Linked DNA regions of Homo sapiens: region 1 is linked to region 2. The links come from fine-mapping of genetic effects on gene expression. A gene starts in region 2. The other region holds a variant in brackets. All regions are shown on one strand. Distances are from middle to middle. Region 1 overlaps MAST1 (microtubule associated serine/threonine kinase 1). Region 2 holds the start of PRDX2 (peroxiredoxin 2).

Region 1 (16,413 bases), 67 kb after region 2:
TGCCACCATTCATGGGTAATTTTTCTATTTTTAGCAGAGACAGGATTTCGCCATGTTTGCCAGGCTAGTCTTGAACTCCTGACCTTAAGTGATCTGCCTGCCTGGGCCTCCCAAAGTGCTGGGATTACAGGCATGAGCCACTGTGCCAGGCCTATTTTATTTTATTTATTTATTTTTGAGACAAGATCTCACTCTGTTGCTCAGGCTGGAATGTAGTGGTGCGATCACAGCTCACTGCAGCCTCAAATGCCTGGGCTCAATCAATTCTCCCACCTCAGCCTCCCAAATACCTGGGATTATAGGTGCGGACCACCACACTCGGCTAATTTTTGGGAGGCCAAGGTGGGGAGATCACAAGGTCAGGGGTTCAAGACCAGCCTGGCCAACATGGTGAAACCCTGACTCTACCAAAAATACAAAAATTAGCCAGATGGCACACTCCTATAATCCCAGCTACTCACGTGGCTGAAGTGGGAGGATTGTTTAAACACAGGAAGCAGAGGTTGCAGTAAGCCGAGATCGTGCTGCTGCACTCCAGGCTAGGCTGAGATCATGCCATTGCACTCCAGCCCTGGCAACTGAGCAAGACCCTGTCCCGCAAAAAAAAAAAAAAAAAAGTTTTTTGTTTTTTGTTTTTTTTTGTTCGTTTGTTTTGTTTTTTATGCAGTCTCCCTGTATTGCCCAAGTTAGTCTCCAACTCCTGGGCTCAAGCAACCGTCCTGCCTCAGCCTTCCAAAGTCCTGGGATTACAGGCACGAGCCACCGAGCCCATCCCATATACCTGTTTATTAATCCACCTTTCCATCCATCCCTCACATCCCGCAATTTGTCTTTGTGGTTGTCCATCTGTTTATCCATCCGTATGTCTGTTTACCATTATACACCTATTTTTCTTTTTTTTGGGGGGGACGGCGTCTTGCTCTGTCTCCCAGGCTGGAGTGCAGTGGCGCAATCTCAGCTCACTGCAAGCTCCACCTCCTAGGTTCACACCATTCTCCTGCCTCAGCCTCCTGAGTAGCTGGGATTACAGGTGCCCGCCACCATGCCCGACTAATTTTTTTTGTATTTTTAGTAGAGACGGGGTTTCACCGTGTTGGCCAGGATGGTCTCGATCTCTTGACCTCATGATCCGCCCACCTCGGCCTCCCAAAGTGCTGTGATTACAGGCGTGAACCACCACACCCGGCTTATACACCTATTTTTCCTTTTTCTTTCTTTCTTTTTTTTTTTTTTTTTGAGACAGAGTCTTGCTCTGTCACCAGGCTCGAATGCAGTGGCGCTATCTCGGCTCACTGTAACCTCCACCTTCCAGGTTCAAGTGATTCTCCTGCCTGAGCCTCCCGAGTAGCTGGGATTACAGGTGTGTGCCACCACACCTGGCTAATTTTTTGTATTTTTAGTAGAAATAGGGTTTTCACCATGTTGGCCAGGCTGGTCTCGAACTCCTGACCTCAGGTGATCCTCCCACCTCAGCCTCCCAAAGTGCTGGGATTACAGGCGTGAGCCATAGCTTGCGGCCCATATATTGTTTTTAATCCATCCGTGCATGTATTCACCCAAATGTTAATCCATCTATTGTCCAAAACCACACATGCTGTGGCTATTATGACACATACATGATCCCTGGGGCCTCAGCTGTGCCTCCTCCAAGCCTTCCAGTCAACCATCCAGTCACTCAACGAACACCTCCTCATCATCTCCCTCGTGTCACATGCTGTGCTAGGTGCCAGTGACACAGAGGAGACCCAGGCACAGACATCTCCCCGCCATGGAGATTCCATTCTGGTCTGTATAGACAGACAATAAACAAGCAGAGCAAGCCAAAGAGATAAGGACATTTATTTATTTATTTATTTATGGAGTCTCGCTCTTTCACCCAGGCTGGAGTGCCGTGGCGCAATCTTGGTGCACAGCAACCTCCATCTCCCAGGCTCAAGGATTCTCATGCCTCAGCCTCCTGAGTAGCTGGGACTAAAGGCGCGCCTCCACCATGCCCAGCTGATTTTTGTATTTTTAGTAGAGACAGGGGTTTCACCAGGTTGGCCAGGCTGGTCTTGAACTCCTGACCTCAGGTGATCAGCCCACCTTGGCCTCCCAAAGTGCTGGGATTACAGGCATGAGCCACCATGCCCAGCCAGGGCATTTCATAGTGAGGACATGAGGTCCATGAGGCTGGAGGAGGTGATGGGGAGGCAGGCAGGGAGCTTCTCAGAGGCCTGGATTATGATGGAATAAGTGACCTGCTAGTACAAAGTCTCTTAGGTGACAATTTAGATTTGGAGGAGTGGCAAGCAGGCCCATGGAGCCGAAGGCAAGTGAGCAAGGGAGGGGAGATGAGGATGAAGGGGCGCTGATGAGGAGGGTATTCCAGAGACTGGAATGGCATTGGATTTCATTCTGAATGCAACAGAAGGTCACTGGAGCATTGTTGTTTTTTTCTTTTTCTTTTTCTCTCTTTCTTTCTTTCTTTCTTTCTTTCTTTCTTTCTTTTTTGAGATAGAGTCTCGTTCTGTTGCCCAGGCTGGAGTGCAGTGGCGCATCCTCGGCTCACTGCAACCTCCGCCTCCCGGGTTCAAGCGATTCTCCTGCCTCAACCTCCTGAGTAGCTGGGATTACAGGTGCCCGCCACCACGCCCACCTAATTTCTGTATTTTTAGTAGAGATGGGGTTTCATCATGTTGGTCAGGCTGGTCTCAAACTCCACACCTCATGATCTGTCTGCCTCGGCCTCCCAAAGTGCTGGGATTACAGGAGTGAGCCACCGTGCCTGCCTTTTTTTTTTTTTTTTTTTGAAATGGAGTCTCACTCACGCTGTCACCCAGGCTAGAGTGCAATGGGGTGATCTCGGATTACTGCAGCCTCCGTCTCCAAGGTTCAAGTGATTCTCCTGCCTCAGTCTCCCGAGTAGCTAGGATTACAGGCGTGTGCCACCACATCTGGCAAATTTTTGTACTTTTAGTAGAGACGGATTTTCACCATGTTGGCCAGGCTGGTCTCGAATTCCTAGCCTTAAATGATCCATCAGTCTCGGCCTCCCGAAGTATGGGGATTACAGGCGTGAATCACTGCGCCCAGCCTTGTTTTGTTTTATTTTTAGTGCATTGTCCAGGCTGGAGTGCAGTGGTGTGATCACAGCTTACTGCAGCCTTGAACTCCTGGGCTCAAGCAATCCTCCCACCTCAGCCTCCAAAAGTAGCTGAAACTACAGGCAGGCACCACCATGTCCAGCTAATGGAGGGTTTTAAGAAGATTTGATATGATCAGATTTATGTTTTAAGAAAATCCATTTGGAGGCCCATTATAGTAGCTTACGACTGTAATCCCAGCACTTACAGTGGGAGACCAAGGCAGGCAGAACACTTGTGGTCAAGAGTCCAAGATCAACCTACCCAGCATGGTGAAACCCTGTTGTTGTTGTTTTTTTCTTTTCCTTTTTTTTTTTTTTTTTGAGACAGAGTTTCGCTCTGGCTAAACTCGTTGCCCAGGCTAGAGTGCAATGACGTGATCTTGGCTCACCGCAACCTCCTCCTCCCGGGTTCAAGCGATTCTCCTGCCTCAGCTTCTTGAGTAGCTGGAATTATAGGTATGCACCACCACACCTGGCTATTTTTGTATTTTTAGTAGAGATGGGGTTTCTCCATGTCAGCCAGGCTGGTCTCGAACTCCCAACCTCAGGTGATGTGCCTGCCTCGGCTTCCCAAAGTGTTGGGATTACAGGCGTGAGCCACTGTGCCCGGCCAATGAAACCCTGTTTCTACTAAAATTACAAAAATTAGCCAGGAGTGGCGGTGCACGCCTATCATCCCAGCTACTCGGGAGGCTGAGGAACAAGAATCTCTTGAACCCGGGGGCGGTGAGTGGGCAGAGGTTGCAGTGAGCCGAGATGGAGCCACTGCACTCTAGCCTGGGTGACAGAGCCAGACTCTGACTCAAAAAAAAAAAAAAAAAAAAAAAGAGAAAAAGAAAAAAATTAAGAAAAGATAATCCATTTGGCTCTTGTGGAGAGAGCAGAATCAGGAGACTAGGAGGTAGATGACTGCTCTAGTCCAGGTTCATTGCAGAGGAGGAGGAGAGAAGGGGGCCAAATCAGTATCTCTATGGTGGGTCTGTGTGCACAATAGATGTGCTCAAATGCAGATTCCTGGGCCCCACCCTCAGAGAGTTTCTGAAACCAGCAAAATCTCGCAGAAAAGAGAACAGAAAAAAGAAAGAAATCATTAGCTTTCTTGGTCATTGGTGATTGAAAAACCAATATTACCTTCAGGAATGGCTGGATGTAGGTGCTCAAACCATTCCATCAGGAAACTCTCCATCTCTTGGCTCTGTACTCCCACATGTGGGCTTCCTTCTAGACAAGCCCTCATGTAGCAAGGTTGCCATCTAGCAGATCTCAGCTTACATTCTATGAGCTTAGCAATTCTTACAGGAAAAGAGTGAAAATTCCAAGGGCTAACTCACTGGAGCAACTTGGGTTACATACTGCCCCGGTTGCTGCACATGGAAGGAAATCTAGCCTTTGTAGGATAAAAAGGAAATAGATATTGAGAAACTGAAATACCAATGCCAATTACAGTAAATCTGGCAGAGGGGCAGAGGCAGTGGCCAACACTTTGGGAAGCTGAGGCAGGAGGATCCTTTGAACCCAAGAGTTGGAGACCAGCTTGGGCAACACAATGAAACTCGTTTCTACAAAAAACTTTTTTTTTTTTTTTTTTGAGACGGAGTCTTGCTCTGTCACCCAGGCTGGACTGCAGTGGTGCGATCTTGGATCTCTGCAACCTCTGCCTCCCAGGTTCAAGCCATTCTTCTGCCTTAGCCTCCCGAGTAGCTGGGATTACAGCCGTCTGCCAACAAGCCAGGCTAACTTTAGTATTCTTTTTTCAGAGATGGGGTTTCACCATGTTGACCAGGCTGGTCTCGAACTCCTGACCTCAAGTGATCCACCCGCCTTGGCTTCCCAAAGTGCTGGGATTTCAGGCGTGAGCTACCATGCCCAGCCTTGAACAATTTTTTAAAAATCAGCTGGGCATGGTGGCTCACATCTGTAGTCCCAGCTACTCAGGAGGCTGAAGCAGGAGGATTGCTTGAGCTGGGAGGTTGAGGATGCAGTGAGCTGTGATCTTGCCACCGCACTCTAGACTGGGCAATGGAGTAAGACCCTGTCTCAAAAAAAAAAAAAAAAAATCTAGTGAAGACCAAGAATCTGCATCTAAGGCTTCCAGCTCCAAGGTTCAGACACCAGGAGATAGAGGGCTGTGCTTCCAGATGCAGTTGATAAGTGGGTAGCCTTTGTTCCCCAACTAAACCTCACCTCTACCAACAACTGCCTGCATGACCCATCCTTTCTTTGAGTCTCCATCCCTTTGTGTATAAGATGAGCTGATGACACCAACTTTGGAGGATGGCTAAGAGGACAAGAAGAACCCAGTAGAGGACCTGGAGGGAGGGAGGCCCCTCTCAGAGCCTCAGTTTCCCTTATCTATAAAACGGGTACAACATAACATGAGAAGTTGGTGCTATGGTGCATGTCCAGAGAGAGGAATGCCTCCCTTTTTATGCGGGCCCATTTCCTGGCCTGCAGGCGGCGACTGTGCCACCCTGCTGAAGAATATTGGAGCGCTGCCCGTAGAGATGGCCCGCATGTACTTTGCTGAGACGGTGCTAGCCCTGGAGTATTTGCACAACTATGGCATCGTGCACCGCGACCTCAAGCCTGACAAGTGAGCTTTGATCTTTCCCATCACTCCCTCTGTCCCTCGGGAGGCCAGGAGGCAGAATGGACGGGCCTCATCCCTGAGATCCCCACCTGTGCCTACAGCCTCCTTATCACCTCCATGGGTCACATCAAGCTCACAGATTTCGGCCTCTCCAAGATGGGGCTCATGAGCCTCACCACCAACTTATATGAAGGCCACATCGAGAAGGACGCCCGAGAGTTCCTGGACAAACAGGTGTGTGTGCGGGCATGGGGGTCGCTGAGGGTGGAGTGACCCTGCAGGACCTCGGGAACCCAGGGCCTGGTGGGGGGCACAGCTCTCCCTTGAGGGCCCTCCTCTGGCTGGGGCGTGGGCTGACAGCCTGCCCCCAGGTGTGTGGGACCCCAGAGTACATCGCGCCCGAGGTCATCCTGCGTCAAGGCTACGGCAAGCCAGTGGACTGGTGGGCTATGGGGATCATCCTCTACGAGTTCCTGGTGGGCTGTGTGCCCTTCTTCGGAGACACACCAGAGGAGCTATTTGGACAGGTCATCAGTGGTACGTGGCTTGGCAGTGTACAGGGGCAGAGTGTGGTGTGCACGGAGAGATGGACAGGCTCAGGGTTCCAGGGATTTCAAAAGCGACCCCCCAGAGGATCGCTTGCACTCAGGAGGTCAAGGCTGCAGTGAGCCATGATCGTGCCACTGCACTCCAGCTGGGTGACACAGTGAGATCCTGTGTCCAAACAACAACAACAACAAAAACCGCCCCTAAGTTCCGTTTTGTTTTGCAGATGACATCCTGTGGCCCGAGGGGGATGAGGCCCTACCTACGGAGGCCCAACTCCTCATATCCAGCCTCCTGCAGACCAACCCTCTGGTCAGGCTTGGGGCAGGTAAGTCCGCCATGCAGAGGAGCTGAGGGCCCACTGATAGAGAGCAGGCCTCCAAAACCCCAGGCCCAGCCTGTGCTGTGGCCCCGGGGCGGAAGACATGGGGGGCGGGGCTGGGCTGCTGGGTTGGCCATCAGCTGTGGCTGGAATCCCTTCCGTCCCAGGCGGCGCTTTTGAGGTGAAGCAGCACAGTTTCTTTCGAGACCTGGACTGGACAGGGCTGCTGAGGCAGAAGGCCGAGTTCATCCCCCACCTAGAGTCGGAAGATGACACTAGCTACTTTGACAGTGAGCTGGGACACCAGGCACGACCTGGGTCGAGGGGTGGGATCCGGGAAGAGGGACCCTGGGGTAAGTAAAGCCTGGGATAGGGCCTGGCTAAGTACCAAGATGTGATGCCTAGGTGCGAAGGTGGTATTTTGGTGGGGGCGGGGCCAAGTGGGGCGGGGCTGACATACAGGCGGGGCTCAGGCTGAAATGTAGGTAAGAACCTGAGATTGGGCTAGGTGTGGGGCCTGGCCTGGGTGAGTTGTGAGTGTGGGCCTGGAACTGAACTAGAGAGAGGTACTAGCGCTCAGAATGGCCTGGGGTGATGCCAGGGTGCAGAGCACTGTAGGTGGAGCGTGGCCTCTTTGGAGGCGGGGCTAGACGGTGCCACTGAGAATGGGGCAAGGACCTTGCCTGGGAGCGGAGCCTAAATTAAATACACTAATGAGGCAGGGGCGTGGCCTGACCTGAAGACTTGTAAACCCGTCTTGAACCAGGACTGGGCTCCTGTGGGGATGTGATATGAGGAGGAACCCCGTACCCTCAGTCACAGCCCATACCCGCTCCCCAGCCCGCTCAGACAGGTATCACCACGTGAACTCCTATGACGAGGATGACACGACGGAGGAGGAGCCCGTGGAAATCCGCCAGTTCTCTTCCTGCTCTCCGCGCTTCAGCAAGGTGGGCCAAGTCTGGGTGTGGGACAGGGCGAGACCCCAGGAGGGATGGGGCTTGGAGAGACAGTGAGAAACAGGTTCCCTGGTGCCCAAGGTCTCAGGAGCGGGAAGTTATTGATGGGGCGGGAGTCTGGAAGGTGGTAAGGCCACGCAAGAGGCAGGTTCGGGAGTCTATGGGACGGGCCTTTGGCACTGAGTGGAATCTAACAGGAATCAGGACAGTTGTGCAGATTGAGGCCATGGTGGGGCGGGGCTAGGTGTGGGTGGGGCGGGGTCAGGACGTGGGAATGAGGCCAGCAGCGAAGGCGGAGTAAAGCCCAGCGAAGTCTTGCTTTTATTTATTTATTTTTATTTTTTCTAATAACGGGCAGAGAAGCCATAGGCCTTGCTTTGAGAAGCAACTTGTAGAGGCGTGCAGGGCCTAGCCTGGGCTAAGGAGACATAAATTAAGGGGGTTGCTGGGAAGATGGGGCTGTGTAGAGAGCAGATTGGTCAGGGCATCGTCGGGGCAGAGCCTAGAATAAAACGCAGTGCCTAACTTTGTGGTGTGGGGCCTGAACTGAAGAATTGTAGGTTGGGGGATCATGCACAATTGGGCGGAGCCAGGCCTCGGAGGGTGGAGTGCGTTTTGCGGGGGATCCACTGCCAGGAAGCTGATTAGCTCCGGAGTGAAAGTGGAACCCGGGCTGGACTTGCCTCCCACCACCACCTACAGGTGTATAGCAGCATGGAGCAGCTGTCGCAGCACGAGCCCAAGACCCCAGTAGCAGCTGCAGGGAGCAGCAAGCGGGAGCCGAGCACCAAGGGCCCCGAGGAGAAGGTGGCCGGCAAGCGGGAGGGGCTGGGCGGCCTGACCCTGCGTGAGAAGACCTGGAGAGGGGGCTCTCCGGAGATGTGAGCAGGGGAATGGCGGAGTTTGGGGGCGGGGTCGAAGGGGGCGTGTCTTCCATAACCACGCCCCCTCCATGCAGCAAGCGATTCTCCGCGTCCGAGGCCAGTTTCCTGGAGGGAGAGGCCAGTCCCCCTTTGGGCGCCCGCCGCCGTTTCTCGGCGCTGCTGGAGCCCAGCCGCTTCAGCGCCCCCCAAGAGGACGAGGATGAGGCCCGGCTGCGCAGGCCTCCCCGGCCCAGCTCCGACCCCGCGGGATCCCTGGATGCACGGGCCCCCAAAGAGGAGACTCAAGGGGAAGGCACCTCCAGCGCCGGGGACTCCGAGGCCAGTGAGTGCCCTATCGTGCTGCCTTCCCCAATCTTCCCCAATGTCCTACTGGTCATATAGTGAGCATCCCACGAGCCTGGTGCTGTTTATGAAAGATCTCAGGTCCTATTCACATTGCAATTTGGGATTTTTTTTTTTTTTTTTTTTTTTGAGACAGAGTCTCACTCCATCACCCAGGATGGAGTGCAGTGGCGTGATCTCGGCTCACTGCAACCTCCACCTCCCAAGTTCAAGTGGTTCTCGCACCTCAGCCTCCCGAGTAGCTGGGATTACAGGCGCGCGCCACTACCCCCGGCTAATTTTTGTATTTTTAGTAGAGACAGGGTTTCTTCATGTTGGCAAGGCTGGTCTCGAACTCCTGACCTCAAGTGATCTGCCTTCCTTGGCCTACCAAAGTGCTGGGGTTACAGTCGTGAGCCACCACACCCAGCCCAATTTGGGATTCTTAACATTAGAAACACCCCAATACCATGGTCAGTCAGTGATACAGACCGATACAGACTATGTCTCTATATGAGGAGCAGTGAGGCATGCAGGTTACCTGCTCAGATGAAACTCACCATCCATCAAGGGTAAAAAGTGGAAAGAGCATTCCAGGCAGGGAAACAGTATGTGGGAAATCCCTGGCCTTGGACTAATTCCTAACACACTTGCTTTCTGTTGCAGCTGACCGTCCACGCCCAGGTGACCTCTGCCCACCCTCGAAGGATGGGGATGCATCAGGCCCAAGGGCTACCAATGACTTGGTTCTGCGCCGGGCGCGGCACCAGCAGATGTCAGGGGATGTGGCAGTAGAGAAGAGGCCTTCTCGAACTGGGGGCAAAGTCATCAAATCAGCCTCAGCCACTGCCTTATCTGTCATGATTCCTGCAGGTAATGCTGGGCCCCACCTGGCAGGGGAGGGGCTGCCCCCCATTTGAGGCAGGACAGACCAATGAAAATGCTGCATTTTCCCTGTCCACCGTGATTGGCTCCAGGCTGGACCAATGAGAGGCTGCTCTGCCACTGCCTTGGGAGGAGGGAGGAGCAGATACAGGGAGATGTCTATCTTCTTGGTTCTGATTTCTGACCATGGTTGTGTGTCTGTAGTGGACCCACATGGAAGTTCACCCCTTGCTAGTCCCATGTCTCCACGATCTCTGTCCTCCAACCCATCCTCACGGGACTCCTCACCCAGCCGGGACTACTCACCAGCTGTCAGTGGGCTCCGCTCCCCCATCACCATCCAGCGCTCGGGCAAGAAGTATGGCTTCACACTGCGTGCCATCCGTGTCTACATGGGTGACACGGATGTCTATAGTGTCCACCACATTGTCTGGGTGAGTACTCATGGGTGGAGTCTCCATCACAGAGTGGAGGGTGGTGGGGAAAAGGCCCCTCCAGCTCAAACCAGTTAGCCTGGGTGAGACACCTCTGTGACCCTCTATGCCTCTTCCCTCTCTAAACCTGTTTCTTTTTTCTTTTACTTTTTTATTTTAGGCGGAGACTCACTGTGTCGCCAGGCCGGAGTGCAGTGGCAGGATCTCGGCTCACTGCAACCTCTGCCTCCTGAGTTCAAGCCATTCTCCTGCCTCAACCTTCTGAGTAGCTGGGACTACAGACAGGCGCGCGCCACCACGCCCAGCTAATTTTTGTATTTTTAGTAGAGACGGGGTTTCACCATGTTGGCTAGGATGGTCTCAATCTCTTGACCTCGTGATTCACCCACCTCGGCCTCTCAAACTGCTGGGATTACAGGCGTGAGCCACGGTGCCTGGCCGAGACTGTTTCTTCATCTGCAAAATGGGGAGAATAGGCCAGGCGCAGTGGCTCAGGCCTGTAATCCCAGCACTTTGGGAGGCTGAGGTGGGCAGATCACTGGAGGTCAGGAGTTTGAGACTAGCCTGGCCAATATGGTGAAACCCTGTCTCTATTAAAAATACAAAAATTGGGCCGAGCGCGGTGGCTGTAATCCCGGCACTTTGGGAGGCCGAGGAGGGTGGATCATGAGGTCAGGAGATCGAGACCATCCTGGCTAACATGGTGAAACCCCCTCTCTACTAAAAATACAAAAAATTAGCTGGGCATGGTGGTGGGCGCCTGTAGTCCCAGCTACTTGGGAGGCTGAGGCAGGAGAATCGCTTGAACCCGGGAGGCGGAGCTTGCAGTGAGCCGAGATTGCGCCACTGCACTTTAGCCTGGGCGACAGAGCAAGACACCATCTCAAAAAAAAAAAAAAAAAAAAAAAAAATGGCCAGGCGCGGTGGCTCACGCCTGTAATCCCGGCACTTTGGGAGGCCGAGGTGGGTGGATCACGAGGTTAGGAGTTTGAGATCAGCCTGACCAACATGGTGAAACCCCATCTCTACTAAAAATACAAAAAAAATTAGCCAGGCGTGGTGGCAGATGCCTGTAATCCCAGCTACTCAGGAGGCTGAGACAGGATAATCGCGTGAACCCGGGAGGCGGAGCTTGCAGTGAGCCGACATCGCGCCACTGCACTCCAGCCTGGGTGACAGAGCGAGAGACTCCGTCTCAAAAAAAAAAAAAAAAAAAATTAGCCGGAGGTAGTGGCGCATGCCTATAATCCCAGCTACTTGGGAGGCTGAGGGAGGAGAATCGCTTGAACCTGGGAGGCGGGTGTTGTTGCAGTGAGCCAGGATTGCGCCACAGCACTCCAGCCTGGGTGACAGAGTGAGACTCCGTC[C/CA]AAAAAAAAAAAAAAAATGTGGGGGGAGGAATAATAACTATTTCACAAGGTGTTATGAGGATTCTAATGCATGCAGAGCTAAGTGTCCTGCATATAAGTTTAGGAGCTTTCCTTGTTACCAATCCCACTAACCCTGTCCCTATGGGGTGCTCTTTTCCCAGCATGTGGAGGAAGGAGGCCCAGCCCAGGAGGCAGGACTCTGTGCTGGGGACCTCATCACCCACGTGAATGGGGAGCCTGTGCATGGCATGGTGCATCCTGAGGTCGTGGAGCTGATCCTTAAGGTGAGTGCAGGGAAGGAGGCACCCTGGGCGGAGGGTGGGGGAGGCCTGAGCAGCCCCTAGCAGAGCATTTTCCCGCATTCTTCCCCCAGAGTGGCAACAAGGTAGCAGTGACCACAACGCCCTTCGAAAATACCTCTATCCGCATTGGTCCCGCAAGGCGCAGCAGCTACAAGGCTAAAATGGCTCGGAGGAACAAGCGACCCTCCGCCAAGGAGGGCCAGGAGAGGTGGGCACAGCCGTAAACAGCCTGGTCTTTGAGCAGTGGGTGGAACTTAGGCGGGAGGGGCACAGATGAGGATGGAGAAGGGAAGAGCACGGGAAAGGTGGCGGGAACAAATGACCAACAAGCAAAGGGAAGAGGACAATTAAGAGGGGCTGCGGGCTGGGCGCGGTGGCTCACGCCTGTAACCCCAGCACTTTGGGAGGCCGAGGCGGGCAGATCACGAGGTCAGGAGTTTGAGACCAGCCTGGCCAATATGGTGAAACCCCATCTCTACTAAAAATACAAAAATTAGCCTGGCATGGTGGCGCTCGCCTGCAGTCCCAGCTACTTAGGAAGCTGAGGCAGAAGAATCCCTTGAACCCGGGAGGTGGATGTTGCAGTGAGCCAAGATTGTGCCACTGCACTCCAACCTGGGCAACAGAGTGAGACTCCATCTCAAACAAACAAACAAACAAACAAACAAAAAAAGAGGGGCTGGGATGAGTCACACCTGTAATCACAGCACTTTGGGAGGCTGAGGCAGAAGGATCACTTGAGCCCAGGAGTCAAGATTAGGGGCAACATAGAGAGACCCCATCTCTACAAAAAACTTAAAAAACTAGTTGGGTTTGGTGGCACACACCTGTGGTCTCAGCTACTCGGAGGCTGAAGTGGGAGGATTGCTTGAGCCTGGGAGGTCGAGGCTGCAGTGAGCTATGATCTCACCACTGCAGTCCAGCTGTGACAACAGAGCTAGACTCTTTCAAAAAAAAAAAAAAAAAAAAAAAAGAGGGGCTGTAAAAGTGGAAGGAGCCAAGAATGGAAGCTGTGCCAAATTTCTAGGATCAGAGAAAAGCATTGTAGGAGGGTCTTGCACATATAGGCAGGCCCAGGAGATGTGAACTGGAAAGGGAGATGTCCAGAGACGGAGGGGGTCCAGGAGATGGTCCTATCCTGTTAGATGTGTTTAGACAGAACTGGGAAAGGCTAGAATAAGAAATGTCTATCTGGAATGAGCATGCCAGGCAAGGTTCAGCCAACTGAAATCCTATTTTCCCTTATAGATAGGAGGAGCTAGGTGGGAGGTGGGTGGGGCCAGAAGGGTATTCTGTTTGTTTGTTTGTTTTTAGTATTCTGTTTTGATCAGTGAGTTTGGCCCAGACAAGTACAGGGATTTGGGTGAGAGGAGCCAGACGGGGTTGAGATAAGTACATTTCTTCCCACTCTTATAGGTGGGTTGTAGTGGAAGAGGCGGGACTAGAGGCAGGTGGGACCAAGTTGGTTTTGTTTGGATGTGTTTCTAGCCTGGACTGGGAGTGGCCAAAAGGTTGGGCAGGACCTGAAGTGGGAGGAGGGAGGAGCCAAGCAGCACTGAGTTAAGGGAAGTTCTGTCTTGATAGGTGGGTTGTAGTGAAAGACGGAGGGACTAGAGGGGTGGGCAGGACTAGAAGAGGTTGTTTTTGGCCGGGCGAGGTGGTTCACACCTGTAATCCCAGCACTTTGGGAGGCCGAGGTGGGTGGATCACCTGAGGTCAGGAGTTTGAGACCAGCCTGACCAACATGGTGAAACCCCATCTCTACTAAAAATACAAAAATTAGCTGGGAGTGGTGGCTCACTCCTGTAGTCCCACCTACTCAGGAGGCTACTCACGAAGCTGAAGCACGGTAATCGCTTGAACCCGGGAGGTAGAGGTTGCAGTGAGCCGAGATCGTGCCATTGCACTCCAGCCTGGGCGACAAGAGCGAAACTTCGTCTCAAAAAAAAAAAAAAAAATGGTTTTGTTTGGATGAGTGTTTGTAGCCAGAATTGGGAGTGGCCTAAAGTTGGGCGGGGCCTGAAGTAGGAGGAGCTAAAGGAAGTTCTATCTTGATAGGTGGATTGTAGTGGAAGAGGGAGGAGCTAGAGAGGTGGGCGGGGCAGAACAGGTTGGTTTTGTTTGGATGCTTGTTTCTAGCTTGGACTAGGAGTGGCCAAAGGGGGTGGGTGGGGACTGAAGTGGGAGGAGCCAAGCAGCACTGAGCTAAAGGAAGTTCTTTATCTTGATAGGTGGGTTGTAGCTGGAGAGGGAAGGGCCAGAAGGGGTGGGTGGTTACCGTTGTGAGGCCGTGAAATGGGAGGAGCCCTGAGCTCTGGCGTCCAGGTCAAGGACGCTTGGCCCCCTCCCTGTCCCGCAGCAAGAAGCGCAGCTCCCTCTTCCGGAAGATCACGAAGCAGTCGAACCTGCTGCATACTAGCCGCTCGCTGTCGTCGCTGAACCGCTCGCTGTCATCCAGCGATAGTCTCCCGGGCTCGCCTACGCACGGGCTGCCGGCGCGCTCGCCCACGCACAGCTACCGCTCCACGCCTGACTCCGCCTACCTAGGTATTACCTCCTGCACCTGCGCGGGGACCGAGCAGCGCGGGGTGGCCTGGCTGGTGCTTGGGCTGTACTCACTCGCTTCACCTCCTGTCTCCCGCAGGCGCCTCATCCCAGAGCAGCTCCCCAGCCTCGAGCACGCCCAACTCGCCTGCGTCGTCGGCGTCGCACCACATTCGGCCCAGCACGCTGCACGGACTGTCGCCAAAGCTCCATCGCCAGTACCGCTCTGCGCGATGCAAGTCGGCCGGCAACATCCCTCTATCGCCGCTGGCACACACGCCGTCCCCCACGCAGGCGTCACCGCCGCCACTGCCGGGCCACACGGTGGGCAGCTCGCACACTACTCAGAGCTTCCCGGCCAAACTGCACTCATCGCCTCCCGTCGTGCGCCCGCGCCCCAAGAGTGCCGAGCCCCCTCGCTCGCCGCTCCTCAAGCGCGTGCAGTCGGCCGAGAAGCTGGGAGCCTCTTTGAGTGCGGACAAGAAGGGCGCGCTGCGCAAACACAGCCTCGAGGTGGGCCACCCGGATTTCCGCAAGGACTTCCATGGCGAGCTGGCGCTGCATAGCCTTGCCGAGTCCGACGGTGAGACGCCCCCAGTCGAGGGCCTTGGCGCGCCCCGGCAGGTCGCCGTCCGCCGCCTGGGCCGACAGGAGTCACCTTTGAGCCTGGGCGCGGACCCGTTGCTGCCCGAGGGTGCCTCCAGGCCACCAGTGTCGAGCAAGGAGAAGGAATCCCCGGGGGGCGCCGAGGCGTGCACCCCACCCCGCGCGACGACCCCCGGTGGCCGGACCCTGGAGCGGGACGTCGGCTGCACGCGGCATCAGAGCGTGCAGACGGAGGATGGCACTGGCGGGATGGCCAGGGCTGTGGCCAAGGCGGCGCTGAGCCCGGTGCAGGAACACGAGACAGGCCGGCGCAGCAGCTCTGGCGAGGCGGGCACACCCCTGGTACCCATTGTCGTAGAGCCTGCGCGGCCCGGGGCTAAGGCTGTGGTGCCTCAGCCTCTGGGCGCGGACTCCAAGGGGTTGCAGGAACCCGCACCCCTGGCGCCTTCCGTGCCCGAGGCCCCCCGGGGCCGGGAGCGCTGGGTGTTGGAGGTGGTGGAGGAGCGCACCACGCTGAGCGGTCCTCGCTCCAAGCCCGCCTCCCCAAAGCTCTCCCCGGAGCCCCAGACACCCTCCCTAGCCCCAGCGAAGTGCAGTGCACCCAGCAGTGCAGTGACCCCAGTCCCACCCGCATCCCTCTTGGGCTCAGGCACCAAGCCTCAAGTGGGGCTGACCTCCCGGTGCCCTGCTGAAGCTGTGCCCCCAGCAGGCCTGACCAAAAAAGGAGTGTCCAGTCCCGCACCCCCGGGACCATAGCCAAGGGGGTCATCGGCCCCGCGCTGTACAGCCTCCGTATACATATGTACACATATAAATAAAGTGCGTCCGTGCTGCGTGAGTTTTCTGGGGCTCACTCCTCTCCAGGCAAGGCGAGACATCACACGACCCCACCCCCATGCCCAGGTGCTTTTTGGGAGGTGGGACTCCAGTTCTGGTTACCATGGAGAGTGGAGGGAATTTTGGATAGACACCTCCTGTGGTCCCACTTCTGGTCTCACCTCTGCACCAACTGCCCCCAAACCTTTAGGGGGAGAATTGAAGCTGCGATGCTCTTGTGTCCCAGCGCCCACCTGAAGAGAAGGTTAACAGCCTCGTCCACCAATTTCCATTTATTTACTCCTCAACAATCCTGATGGCAGGTATTATGTTTCCCATTTTGCAGACAGGTAGACTGTGTCACAGAGCGGTTAAGGCACACAATCAAGGTCATACAGCTAGGAAGGGGATGAACTGGGATTCAAAATCAAGTCCAAACTGGTTCCTGAGCCCTTAGATTTTTTATTTTTTATTTTTTTGACACAGAGTCTCATTCTGTCACCCAGGCTGAAGTGCCGTGGTGTTAGCTCAGCTCATGACAACCTCTGCCTCCCGAGTTCAAGCGATTCTCCTGCCTCAGCCTCCCGAGGAGCTAGGACCACAGACGCGTGCCACCATGTCTGGCTAATTTTTAAATATTTTTAATGGATATGGGGTTTCACCATGTTGGCCAGGCTGGTCTCGAACTCCTGACCTCAAGTGATCTGCCC
Region 2 (10,885 bases):
CCATCGTGCCTGGCCATGACTTTTCAACAGATTTGAAGAAGTGGGGTCCTGAGAAAATCCTGGGTAACAACAGCATCAGAGGTAACAGTTTTTTGTTTGTTTGTTTGTGTTTTTTAGATGGAGTCTCCCTCTGTCACCCAGGCAGGCTGGAGTGCAGTGGCTCGATCTCAGTTTACCGCAACCTCCACCCACAGGATTCAAGCGATTCTCCTGCTTGGCCTCCCAAGTAGCTGGGTCTACAGGCGTGCATCACCATGCCAGGCTAATTTTTGTATTTTTAGTAGAAACAGGGTTTCACCATGTTGGCCAGGCTGGTCTCGAACCCCTGACCTCAGGTGATCCGCCTGCCTGGGCCTCCCAAAGTGCTGGGATTACAGGCCTGAGCCACCCCGCTCAACTGGGAGCAGCTTTTTTTTTTTTTTTTTTTGAGACGGAGTCTCGCTCTGTTGCCCAGGCTAGAGTGCAGTGGCACGATCTCGGCTCACTGCAAGCTCTGCCTCCCGGGTTCACGCCATTCTCCTGCCTCAGCCTCCCAAGTAGCTGGGACTACAGGCACCTGCCAACATGCCTGGCTAATTTTTTGTATTTTTAGTAGAGAGGGGGTTTCACTGTATTAGCCAGGATGGTCTCGATGTCCTGACCTCGTGATCCGCCCGTCTCGGCCTCCCAAAGTGCTGGGATTACAGGCGTGAGCCACTGCGCCCGGCCTTGGGAGCAGCTCTTAAATGGCAAAATTCATGTAGCCAGGTGAGCCTGTGAAAGAACAGCAGGAAGCCAGCCTGTCTGGAATGGAGTGAACCACAACAGGGCAGATGTCAAGGGAGACTGAGCAGGGGCCTTGGGGAGGAGTGTAGATTAAATTCCAAGGGAGATGAGTGACCCTTAGAGGGTATTAGGTGGGTACCAGCATTAATAGTGGATCTGTGGATTAAATGAGCATATTAGCCCTGTTCTGTAGGAGGAAATTGGGGCATAGAGTAGCAAAACTACTTTCCTGAACGCACACAATATTAAACTGCACCCCTGGGAACCCTGCCTTGCTGCTAATACCTGCCTTCTAGCCTAACTGCCACCCTCCCACCCCAGGGGCAGACAGGCAACCTTTCCAGCCTGGGGTGGGGCAGAGCTCACAGCAGGGACTCTGCACTCTGCACGTAGCTCAGGCTCTCATTCTTGGTTCTGCTCTTAAGACTGGGTCCCCACCCTCTTCCCCATAAGACTACACTGGGCTGGGTTCCTTTCAGCTCGAGGAAGCCGTCTTAGGAACTAGGAACTGGGCCCTACACAGGGGCCTCAGCCCCGAGCTTCACATAACTTATCTCCTACAAATTTTACCACGTGCATGGTGATCTGGGTTTGCAGTCCCATTTTACTGCTGAAGAGACCCAGAGACGATCACAGCTCTTAAACGGCATTTGAACCCAGGCTGGCTGGTGACAAAATGTGGGCTTTGCCTTGCATGGCCAGATTTCTGGATGTAGGGCATCCTGGGATTTGCAAGGGACAAACGGCATACCCTACCCCTCCGAAACCGCCTTGAGCGCAAGCAGGAAAAGAGCAGGCACTAAGCATGTGATAAGACCGCCACCGTGTGGCGAAGATGAGCAACCACAGGGTCAGTTTCCCAAGCCTGAGCCTGAAGAAGGAAGGGGGTTGCAGGGGAGGACGAAAGGACAGAGCACACCAACACAGACTCACACCTTTCCCTAATACTTTATTGGTTACCTCTAGGCCTGTGTGCGGCTGGGTGGGCTTGGGGGAGGGCGTCACTATTCAGCTTCTAGGTGGAGGCATGAGAAGGCCTTGGCCTAGCCCTCCAGGGTCCCATACTGTGGAGTTTGGAGGGGCAGGTCTGGCCTTTCCTGGGTCAGCATAGGGCACCCAGGTGGGGGCACAGGTGGACACCCAGCACAGGCACCTAGGCAGGGGCACAAGCTCACTATCCGTTAGCCAGCCTAATTGTGTTTGGAGAAATATTCCTTGCTGTCATCCACGTTGGGCTTAATCGTGTCACTGCCAGGCTTCCAGCCAGCGGGACAAACTGTGGGAAGACACAAGGATGCACATGAAGGCTACAGCCCCAGGTTCAAGGTGAAGCAAAGCAAGGGCCTGTGTTGCAGAAGAAAATGCTGGAAGCAAGTGGTCCAGGCCCAGGAATGTGGATATTAAGATAAACCCTCCAAGCCCAGTTCAGTATTTTTTCTTTTTTTTTTTTTTCAGACAGAGTCTTGCTCTGTTGCCCAGGCTGAAGTACAGTAGCATGATCTGAGCTCATGCAACCTCTCCCTCCTGGGTTCAAGCGATTCTCATGCCCCAGACTCCCTAGCTGGAATTACAGAGGTGCACCACCACGCCTGGCTAATTTTTGTATTTTTGGTAGAGACCATGTTAGTCACGCTTGTCTCGAACTCCTGACCTCAAGTCATCTGCCCGTCTTGGCCTCCCAAAGTGCTGGGATTACAGGTGTGAGCCACCATGCCTAGCCAAGTTCAGTATTTTCTCTTTTTCTTTTCTTCTTTTTTCTTTCTTTCTTTTTTTTTTTTTTTTTTTGAGACAGAGTCCTCCTCTGTTGCCCAGGCTGGAGTGCAATGGCGTGATCTCGGCTCATTGCAACCTCTGCCTCCCGCGTTCAAGTGATTCTCCTGCCTTAGCCTCCTGAGTAGCTGGGACTACAAGTGCCCGCCACCACACCCTGCTAATTTTTTGGTACTTTTAGCAGAGACAGGGTTTCACCATATTGGTCAGGCTGATCTCGAACTCCTGACTTCAGGTGATCCACCCACCTTGGCCTCCCAAAATGCTAGGATTACAGGCGTGAGCCACTACACCTGGCCAAGTTCAGTATTTTCTAGCTGGTGTTTTTCCTACTCTTAATTCTTCAATTTCTTTTTGCCACCCAGCTCTCCTTTTTCTTCTTTTTTTCTTTTCTTTTTTTTTAAGATGGAGTCTTGCTCTGTTGCCCAGGCTGGAGTGCAGTGGCACGATCTCTGCTCACTGCAAGCTCCGCCTCCCAGGTTCACGCCATTCTCCTACCTCAGCCGCCAGAGTAGCTGGGACTACAGGCGCCCGCCACCACGCCCGACTAATTTTTTTGTATTTTTAGTAGAGACAGGGTTTCACCGCGTTAGCTAGGATGGTCTCGATCTCCTGACCTCTTGATCCGCCCGCCTCAGCCTCCCAAAGTGGTGGGATTACAGGCATGAGCCACCGTGCCCGGCCTCTTTTTTTTTTTTATTTTTTGAGACGGAGTTTCGCTTCACTCGTTGCCCAGGCTGGAGTGCAATGGCACGATCTCAGCTCACTGCAACCTCCGCCTCTCAGCTTCAAACGATTCTCTTGCCTCAGCCTCCCAAGTAGCTGGGATTACAGGCATGCACCACCAGGCTGGGCTAATTTTGTATTTTTAGTAGAGACTGGGTTTCTCCATGTCGGTCAAGCTTGTCTCGAACTCCCGACCTCAGGTGATCCACCCACCTAGGCCTCCCAAAATGCTGGGATTACAGGTGTGAGCCACTGCATCTGGCCTCTTTTTTTTTTTTTTTTTTTTTAACCAATACCCCATCTCTTAAAAAAAAAAAAAAAGAGATGGGGTATTGCTATGTTGCCTAGGCTCGACTCAAATTCCTGGGCCTAAGCAATCTTCTGCCTCACTCTCCAGAGTAGGTGGAACTACAGGCATGAGACACAGCATCTACAGGCATGAGACACAGCATCTTCCTGTCTTTTTGGCTCCTTTAGTCCCATCTTTGTCCCTCTGCCCCACCCCTACAGGTTTTTTTGTTGTTGTTGTTTTTGAGATGGAGTCTCACACTGGCGCCCAGGCTGGAGTGCAGTGGTGTGATCTCGGCTTACTGCAACCTCCTCCCGGGTTCAAGGGAGTCTCCTGCCTCAGCCTCCCAAGTAGCTGGGATTACAGGCACCTGCCACCGCACCCAGCTAATTTTTTTGTATTTTTAGCAGAGACGCGGTTTCACTATGTTGGCCAGGCTGGTCTCAAACTCCTGACCTCATGATCTGCCCGCCTCGGCCTCCCAAAGTGCTGGGATTACAGGCGTGAGCCACCGCGCTCGGCCTGTTTGTTTGTTTTTTTGAGACAGGGTCTTGCTGTGTCACCCAGGCTGGAGTGCAGTGGTGCGATCACAGCTTACTGCAGCCTTGACCTCCCAGGCTCAAGTGATCCTCCAGCCTCAGCCTCTTGAGTAGCTGGGACTATAGGCATGCTTCACAAACCAAGCTAATTTTTTTTTTTTTTGAGACTGAGTTTTGCTCTGTTGCCCAAGCTGGAGTACAACGGTGCGATCTCAGCTCACTGCAACCTCTGCCTCCTGGGTTCAAGCGAACTCCTGCCTCAGTCTCTCAAGTAGCTGGGATTACAAGTGTGCACCACCACGGCCAGCTAATTTTTTGTGTTCTTCGTAGAGACGGGGTTTCACCATGTTGGTCAGGCTGGTCTCGAACTCCTGACCTCAGGTGATCCACCTGCCACAGCTTCCCAAAGTGCTGGCAATACAACCGTGAGCCACTGAGCCCGGCCCCTTTGTCCACCTTGGTTGAATGTCAGGCGTTATTTGTCTCCTACCACATTAGAAACATCCTGCAGACAAAGCCCTGAGCTGAATCTTCTTTGGGGCCCTAACACCCATCTGGACAGGTAAGAGGACAGGCAGTGAATGTTTGCATGAGTGACGGAGGCGCTCAGTATGTACCCATGTGTCATGTGTGTATCTGCTCACCTTCCCCATGCTCGTCTGTGTACTGGAAGGCCTGGACCAGCCGCAGAGCCTCATCCACGGAGCGTCCCACAGGCAAATCATTAACAGTGATCTGGCGAAGGACACCCTTGCCATCGATGATAAAGAGGCCCCTGAAGACATCAGGGTTCCCAGTGAGGAGCTGATAGCTCCCACTGCCAGAGACAAGGAAGGGACTACCAACCACCCGCTGCTAGCCACAGGGCTGGGGGCAGAGAAGACATTGTACAGGAGTGGTCCCAGCATCACAGGAATGGGGGGCAGGGCGCTCCCTGAGCCGGGCTGAGGGTCCCACAGTACCTGTAGGCAATGCCCTCATCTGTTTTCAGCACGCCGTAATCCTCAGACAAGCGTCTGGTCACGTCAGCAAGCAGGGGGATGTTCAGGGGGCCCAAGCCTCCCTCTTTCCGGGGGGTGTTGATCCTGGGAGTAGGGGAGACAGAGTTGGGGCCTCAGGATGCCTGGCACAGCAGGGTCCTCACCCTGTGGGCCCAATGTGATAAGCACTGGAGGCCGGAGATAAGGGGCTTTAGAGTAGGCCGCTGGGAGCCTCACCCACCCCACCCTGGGTTGGGTGCAAGGACTGTATCCCCATGGCTGGGAAGACTGAGTTTGAGAGGCACAGCTCCAGCTAAGTGGCTTCACATGTACTTGTAACTTGCAGCATCACCCAGCAGAGAGCCTGTGTTAAGAGTCCCCATCCTCCTCTAGCTGTGTCATGGGGTACAGCCCTTCACTTCGGTGAACTGGAGTTTCCATCTTCATGAAATAGGGCAGCACAGCCTCCCTCCTGGGAACTAAGTACATAGAGTAGATAGAGTTGCATCTGAGTTGCATCTGCAACTCTATATACCAGGCAACTAGTTGTCAAATGCTAATTACTGTCATCATCCTTAAAGACTTGGGCGGCAATGTTTCCATTATTTTCACGATGGGGAAACGCAGGTTCCAGAGGTTGAGCAATGGCCACGAAGCCACACTGCTAGGACCTGAGGGTGTGAGCTTAGCTGCAACCTCCCTCTTTGGCCCCTGCTCATACCAAGCCAGGTGGGTGAACTGAGAGTCCACCGAGACGCCCAGCACTTCACAGCCCAGCTTGCGGAAGTCCTCTGCACGGTTGCTGAACGCGATGATCTCGGTGGGGCACACAAAAGTGAAGTCCAGAGGGTAGAAAAAGAGGACCACGTACTTCCCTGGGGAGGAGGGACACAGAGGAGTTAGGGCCCAGCTTCTCTCATGCACGGCCCCGCTTCTACCTGGGCCCCCTCCGGGCGGCGCTCACCTTTGTAGTCCGACAGCTTCACCTCTTTGAAGGCGCCATCAACCACCGCTGTGGCCTTGAAGTCAGGGGCTGGCTTTCCGATGCGCGCGTTACCGGAGGCCATGACTGAAAGCTGAGACCCCCGCCCGGTCAGTGCGCCCGGGAAGACACTTTGTCCTCCCAACCCAAGGTCGCGCTGCGTGCTGGGCCCTATGACTGAGTCAGCACGGCGGAGGCGACAGCACTAACCCTCACCCTCCCGGGTACCCGGTCTACGAGGCCCGGAGGCTGCCGGAGACCCGCTCTCCTGACCAGAGCACGAGTGACCCAGCCACTGCCACCAGCACCCCACGAGCGAGTCGGCCGGAGGGCGGTGTCGCAAGCCCCCAGCCCAGAAGGAGACAGTGAGGCCCGCACGAGCAGGGGGCGGGAAGTCGGGCGATCAGGCCTGCGCTGCAAGGCTGTGGCCTCGGTTTCCCCCGCAAGGACAAAGGAGGCCACTATAGCGGATGGAAAGCAAAGGCGGCCAGCACTAAAGTCAGGATCGGGCCAAAGCAGCCTGAAGGGGGTCCTCCCGCCAGGTGCACTCCGGGTGTTCATACCTGCGTGGGCAAAGGCTAGACGCACGGACGATCACACGCGTGGACCCGCGTTCTCAGCGCCAAGTGAGCCCTGGGCCGCGAAGCCTTTTATGCCCGGCCCGAACCAAGACGTGCACGGCGCGGGGGAGGGAGCGGACGAGCGGAGCGGTCGGGTCCACTGCGCCCGCAGGTGCGGGGGAGCGTGCGGCCGGGTCCATGCGCCTGCGGGCGGCGGGGGGAGACGCGTTGCCTTCGGCCGGGACCACTGCACCTGCCCGCGTGGGTAATGCGCCCGCCGCAGACTCCGCGCACGACTCCGCCTGGGAGCGCGTTGGGGGCCGTTGGAGTCCAGCATGGCGCGGACCCCGGGGGCGCTGCTGCTGGCGCCTCTGCTACTCCTGCAGCTGGCGACCCCTGCCCTGGTCTACCAGGACTATCAGTACTTAGGGCAGCAGGGCGAAGGTGACAGCTGGGAGCAGCTGAGGCTGCAGCATCTAAAGGGTAACCTCAGGCGGCGGGGATGACGATGCCCAAAGGCTCCCCGTTGCCCTACTTCTCCTGCTGGCTGCAAAGGGACCTTCCTCGGCGGGCTGCAAATCTCCACCCAGCTCCGCACTGGAGGCGTCCCCTTGGGCTGGTTACTTTTCTCTAAGGCTCGGTTTACTCTTGGATATATTGAAATAGATACTGCTTTAAAGCAGCTCCCAGGGGAAGAGAGGGTGTGGGCAGGACACTGAAGCTGTCACTCGGGGATAGGTGCCAGGAAGGGCAGAGACAGAGAAAGAAGGGGGCGGGCAAGCTTGGGAAATCAGAGAGGGTCCGATTGCAGAAGACCCGTGACCAGTGCAGCGAGAACGACAAGCGAAAGTCCCATATGGAAAGATTTGGGGAAAGAATGTCCAAGGAAGAGGGAATAGCAAATGCCAAGGTGAAAAGTCCTGAAGGAGAAATGGAAAGAGGTCGGTGAGGTGTGGCAGAGACATGGGTGTGGGAGGGTAGGAGGTGTCAGACCTTGGTGAGCGGTGAGTTGGGATAAGATCGGAGTTGGGATAAGATCTGTCTCATAGGGGAAAGGGGCAGATTCAGTAAAGAGCCCTTTAAAGTGATCACAGTGGCCGGCGCGGTAGCTCACGCCTATAATCCTAGCACTTTGGGAGGCTGAGGTGGGAGGATCCCTTGGTCTCGGAGACCAGACCAGCCTGGCCCACACAGCAAGACTCCATCTCTACAAAAAATATTTTAAAATTAGCCTGACTTGATGGCCCAGCACTTTGGGAGGCCGAGGCGGGAGGACTGCTTGAGCCCAGGAATTCAAGACCAGCCTGGGCAACATGGAGAGACCCCCTACTCTACAAAAATAAATAAATAAATAAAAATAAAAAATAAATTAGCCTGCCATGGTGGCATGCGCCTGTAGTCCCAGCTACTCAAGAGGCTGATACAGGAGGACCATTTGTGCCAAGGAGTTTGAAGCTGCAGTGAGCCATGATTATGCCCTTGCATTCCAACCTGGGTAACAGAGCAAGATCTTGTCTCAAAATAAATAAATTAAATAAATAAACAAACTGATCATAATAAATTGGTTTGTATATGCTAGCACAGCACCGGGAGATTTACTTACCTTCATTATGTCAATTATGCCATTTATCACTTGACAACCCTGCTGTCAGGTGGCATTGTGCCTTCTAGGTAGGGCCATGGTCACACCCCTGAAGACAGAAGTCAGCTTCAAATGGCGGGCACCAAGGATGTTGTAGGACACTCACAACTGGGCAGGCTGGCACAGCCTGGAAGTGTCAGGTTGTAGTTCCTCTGGCCCACTTACCCCGTATATGAGCTTGGAAGGTTGGCTTGCTGTCTCTGGGTCTTGGTTTCCCCACCTGAGACTCGTGGAAATATTAAATGAGGCCAGGCATGGTGGCTGGCTCACACCTGTAATCCCAGCACTTTGGGAGGCTGAGATGGGAGTATCACTTGAGCCCAGGAGTTCCAGACCAGCCTGGGCAACATGGTGAAACACCGTCTCTGCAAAAAATACAAAAAATTAGCCAGGCACAGTGGCATGTGCCTGTAGTCCCAGCTACTTGGTAGGCCGAGGTAGGAGGATTGCTTGAGCCCAGGAGGTTGAGGCTGCAGTGAGCTGTGACTGCGCCACTGCACTCCAGCCTGGGCGACAGAGCGAGACCCTGTCTCAAAAAAAAAAAAAAAAAAAAAAAAAAAGCTTAAATGAGATAATCTGTGGCAGGGTGTCTGGCATAGAAGCAGAGTCTAGCGAATATGTGCTTCTCTTATTCGTTAGTATCTTTATCTTTCTCCCTCTCTGGGGGAGGGGATTGGGAGTAGGCCCCCTCCACGTAGGTCTTCACCTCTGCCCTCCTTCTCTAGAAGTCGAGGACTCAATCCTTGGCCCGTGGGGAAAGTGGCGGTGTCTCTGCGACCTGGGCAAGCAGGAGCGCAGCCGCGAGGTAGTGGGCACAGCGCCGGGCCCGGTTTTCATGGACCCGGAGAAGCTGATCCAGTTACGGCCCTGCCGGCAACGGGATTGTCCATCCTGCAAGCCCTTCGACTGCGACTGGAGGCTCTGAGCCCGGGTGAGAGAGCAGGGCCGGGGCAAGTTGCGGGGCCCAGGGTGGGCGCGGAGGGAGGATGTGCGGTGCGGGGCGGGTATGAAGCGAGTTTGAGGAAGGGAGAACTGGGGCTCCAAGTCTTGAGTGACTTGAGGCTGATTTGGTTAGGGGGAAGCTGAGTCAGGAGCCGTGAGCCCCGCTGATATCTAGGGAGAAAAGGAGAAAAGTGGAGGGGGCGCCGGGCGCCGGGGCTCACGCCTGTAATTCCAGCATTTTGGGAGGCCGAGGCAGGCGGATCTCTTGAGTCCTGGAGTTCAAGATTAGTCTGGGCAATATCGTTGAGATCACCTCTCCATAAAAATTTTTAAAATTAGGCCGGGCGCGGTGGCTCACGCCCGCAATCCCAGCACTTTGGGAGGCCAAGGCAGGCGGATCACAAGGTCAGGAGATCGAGACCATCCTGGCTAAAACGGTGAAACCCCGTCTCTACTAAAAATATAAAAAATTAGCTGGGCGCGGTGGCGGGCGCCTGTAGTCCCAGCTACTCGGGAGGCTGAGGCAGGAGAATGGCATGAACCCGGGAGGCGGAGCCTGCAGTGAGCCGAGATCGCGCCACTGCACTCCAGCCTGGGCGACAGAGCGAGACTCTGTCTCAAAAAAAACCAACCAAACAAACAAACAAACAAAAACATTTAAGTTAGATGAGCGTGGCGGCACATGCCTGTGGTCCCAGCTACTCGGTACGATGGGGAGGAAGGATCGCTTGAGCCTGGGAGGCAAAGGTTACAATAAGCCGAGATCGCTACACTGCTATCCAGCCTGGGCAACAGAGTAACATCCTGTCTCAAAAAAAAAAAAAAAAAAAAAAAAAAAAAAAAAGTGGAGGGGGAGGCGAAGAGGAGTAAAAGGAGATAAAGAGACAATGAACTAGGACCCTGAGGAAGGGGCATGAGCCTGGTAAGGGGCGGGAACCCACAGGCAGAGGACATGAGCCCCAGTGAGCCCAGGGAATAGAAGTGGTGGATGCCAGGCACTGTGGCTGGCTCAGGCTTGTAATCCCAACACTTTGGGAGGCTGAGGCGACCGGATCGCTTGAGCCCAGGAGTTTGAAGCCAGCCTGGGCAACATAATGAGACCCCGTCTCTACAAAAAATACCAAAAATAGTCGGGCATGGTGGTGTGGTGTGCACCTGTAGTCCAGCTGCTTGGGAGACTGAGGTGGGAGGATCGCGTCAGCCCAGGAGGTGGAGGTTGCAGTGAGCCAAGATCGCGCCACTGCACTCCAGCCTGGACAACAGAGAGAGACCCTGTCTAAAAAAAAAAGAAGGCCGGGTGCGGTGGCTCACGCCTGCAATCCCAACACTTTGGGAGGCCGAGGCGGGCGGATCACAAGGTCAGGAAATCGAGACCAACCTGGCTAACACGGTGAAACCCCATCTCTACTAAAAAGTACAAAAAATTAGCCGGGTGTGGTGGCGGGCGCCTGTAGTCCCAGCTATTCGGGAGACTGAGGCAGGAGAATGGCGTGAACCCGGGACGCGGAGCTTGCAGTGAGCGGAGATGGCGCCATTGCACTCCAGCCTGGGCGACAAGAGCGAGACTCTGTCTCAAAAAAAAAAAAAAGAAAAAAAAAAAGTGGGTCGAGGGGTGGGGGTGGGGACATTCATTCTAAGTTGGGAGGAATGAGCTTCTATAGGGAGCAGAGACCCTGAGCAGGAGTCCACC

The links. PIP is the estimated chance that this variant, and not a neighbour inherited with it, causes the effect. A credible set is the group of variants that fine-mapping cannot tell apart.
Region 1: its variant is the best candidate, but not a certain one, in a credible set for the expression of PRDX2 in monocytes (Fairfax 2014, PIP 0.89).

Annotation. Positions count from the first base shown.
Region 1 is chr19:12,859,228-12,875,640 of GRCh38, forward strand. MAST1 (microtubule associated serine/threonine kinase 1) reads left to right here. Exons shown (of 26, transcript NM_014975.3): 13 at 5,582-5,720; 14 at 5,819-5,951; 15 at 6,089-6,254; 16 at 6,490-6,591; 17 at 6,753-6,875; 18 at 7,426-7,535; 19 at 8,247-8,425; 20 at 8,503-8,750; 21 at 9,416-9,622; 22 at 9,839-10,068; 23 at 11,597-11,719; 24 at 11,809-11,945; 25 at 14,097-14,284; 26 at 14,382-15,725. The coding sequence ends at 15,643. It overlaps DNASE2 (deoxyribonuclease 2, lysosomal), which reads right to left. Exons shown (of 6, transcript NM_001375.3): 6 at 15,982-16,413. Among named protein-coding and RNA genes, the nearest start is that of DNASE2, 14 kb to the right of the region's middle. RefSeq lists enhancers at 5,550-6,338, 6,339-7,126, 8,348-8,642 and a cis regulatory region at 7,924-8,704. The variant C/CA (reference allele first, on the strand shown) is at 11,436.
Region 2 is chr19:12,795,126-12,806,010 of GRCh38, forward strand. It overlaps PRDX2 (peroxiredoxin 2), which reads right to left and starts at 6,675. Exons shown (of 6, transcript NM_005809.6): 1 at 6,615-6,675; 2 at 6,034-6,145; 3 at 5,791-5,944; 4 at 5,052-5,174; 5 at 4,734-4,864; 6 at 1,698-2,041. The coding sequence starts at 6,136. The coding sequence ends at 1,956. THSD8 (thrombospondin type 1 domain containing 8) reads left to right here and starts at 6,944. Exons shown (of 2, transcript NM_001386800.1): 1 at 6,944-7,094; 2 at 8,979-9,264. The coding sequence starts at 6,947. The coding sequence ends at 9,178. RefSeq lists enhancers at 1,094-1,503, 5,753-5,952, 6,280-6,838, silencers at 6,438-6,623, 6,633-7,022 and cis regulatory regions at 6,486-7,035, 10,706-10,885.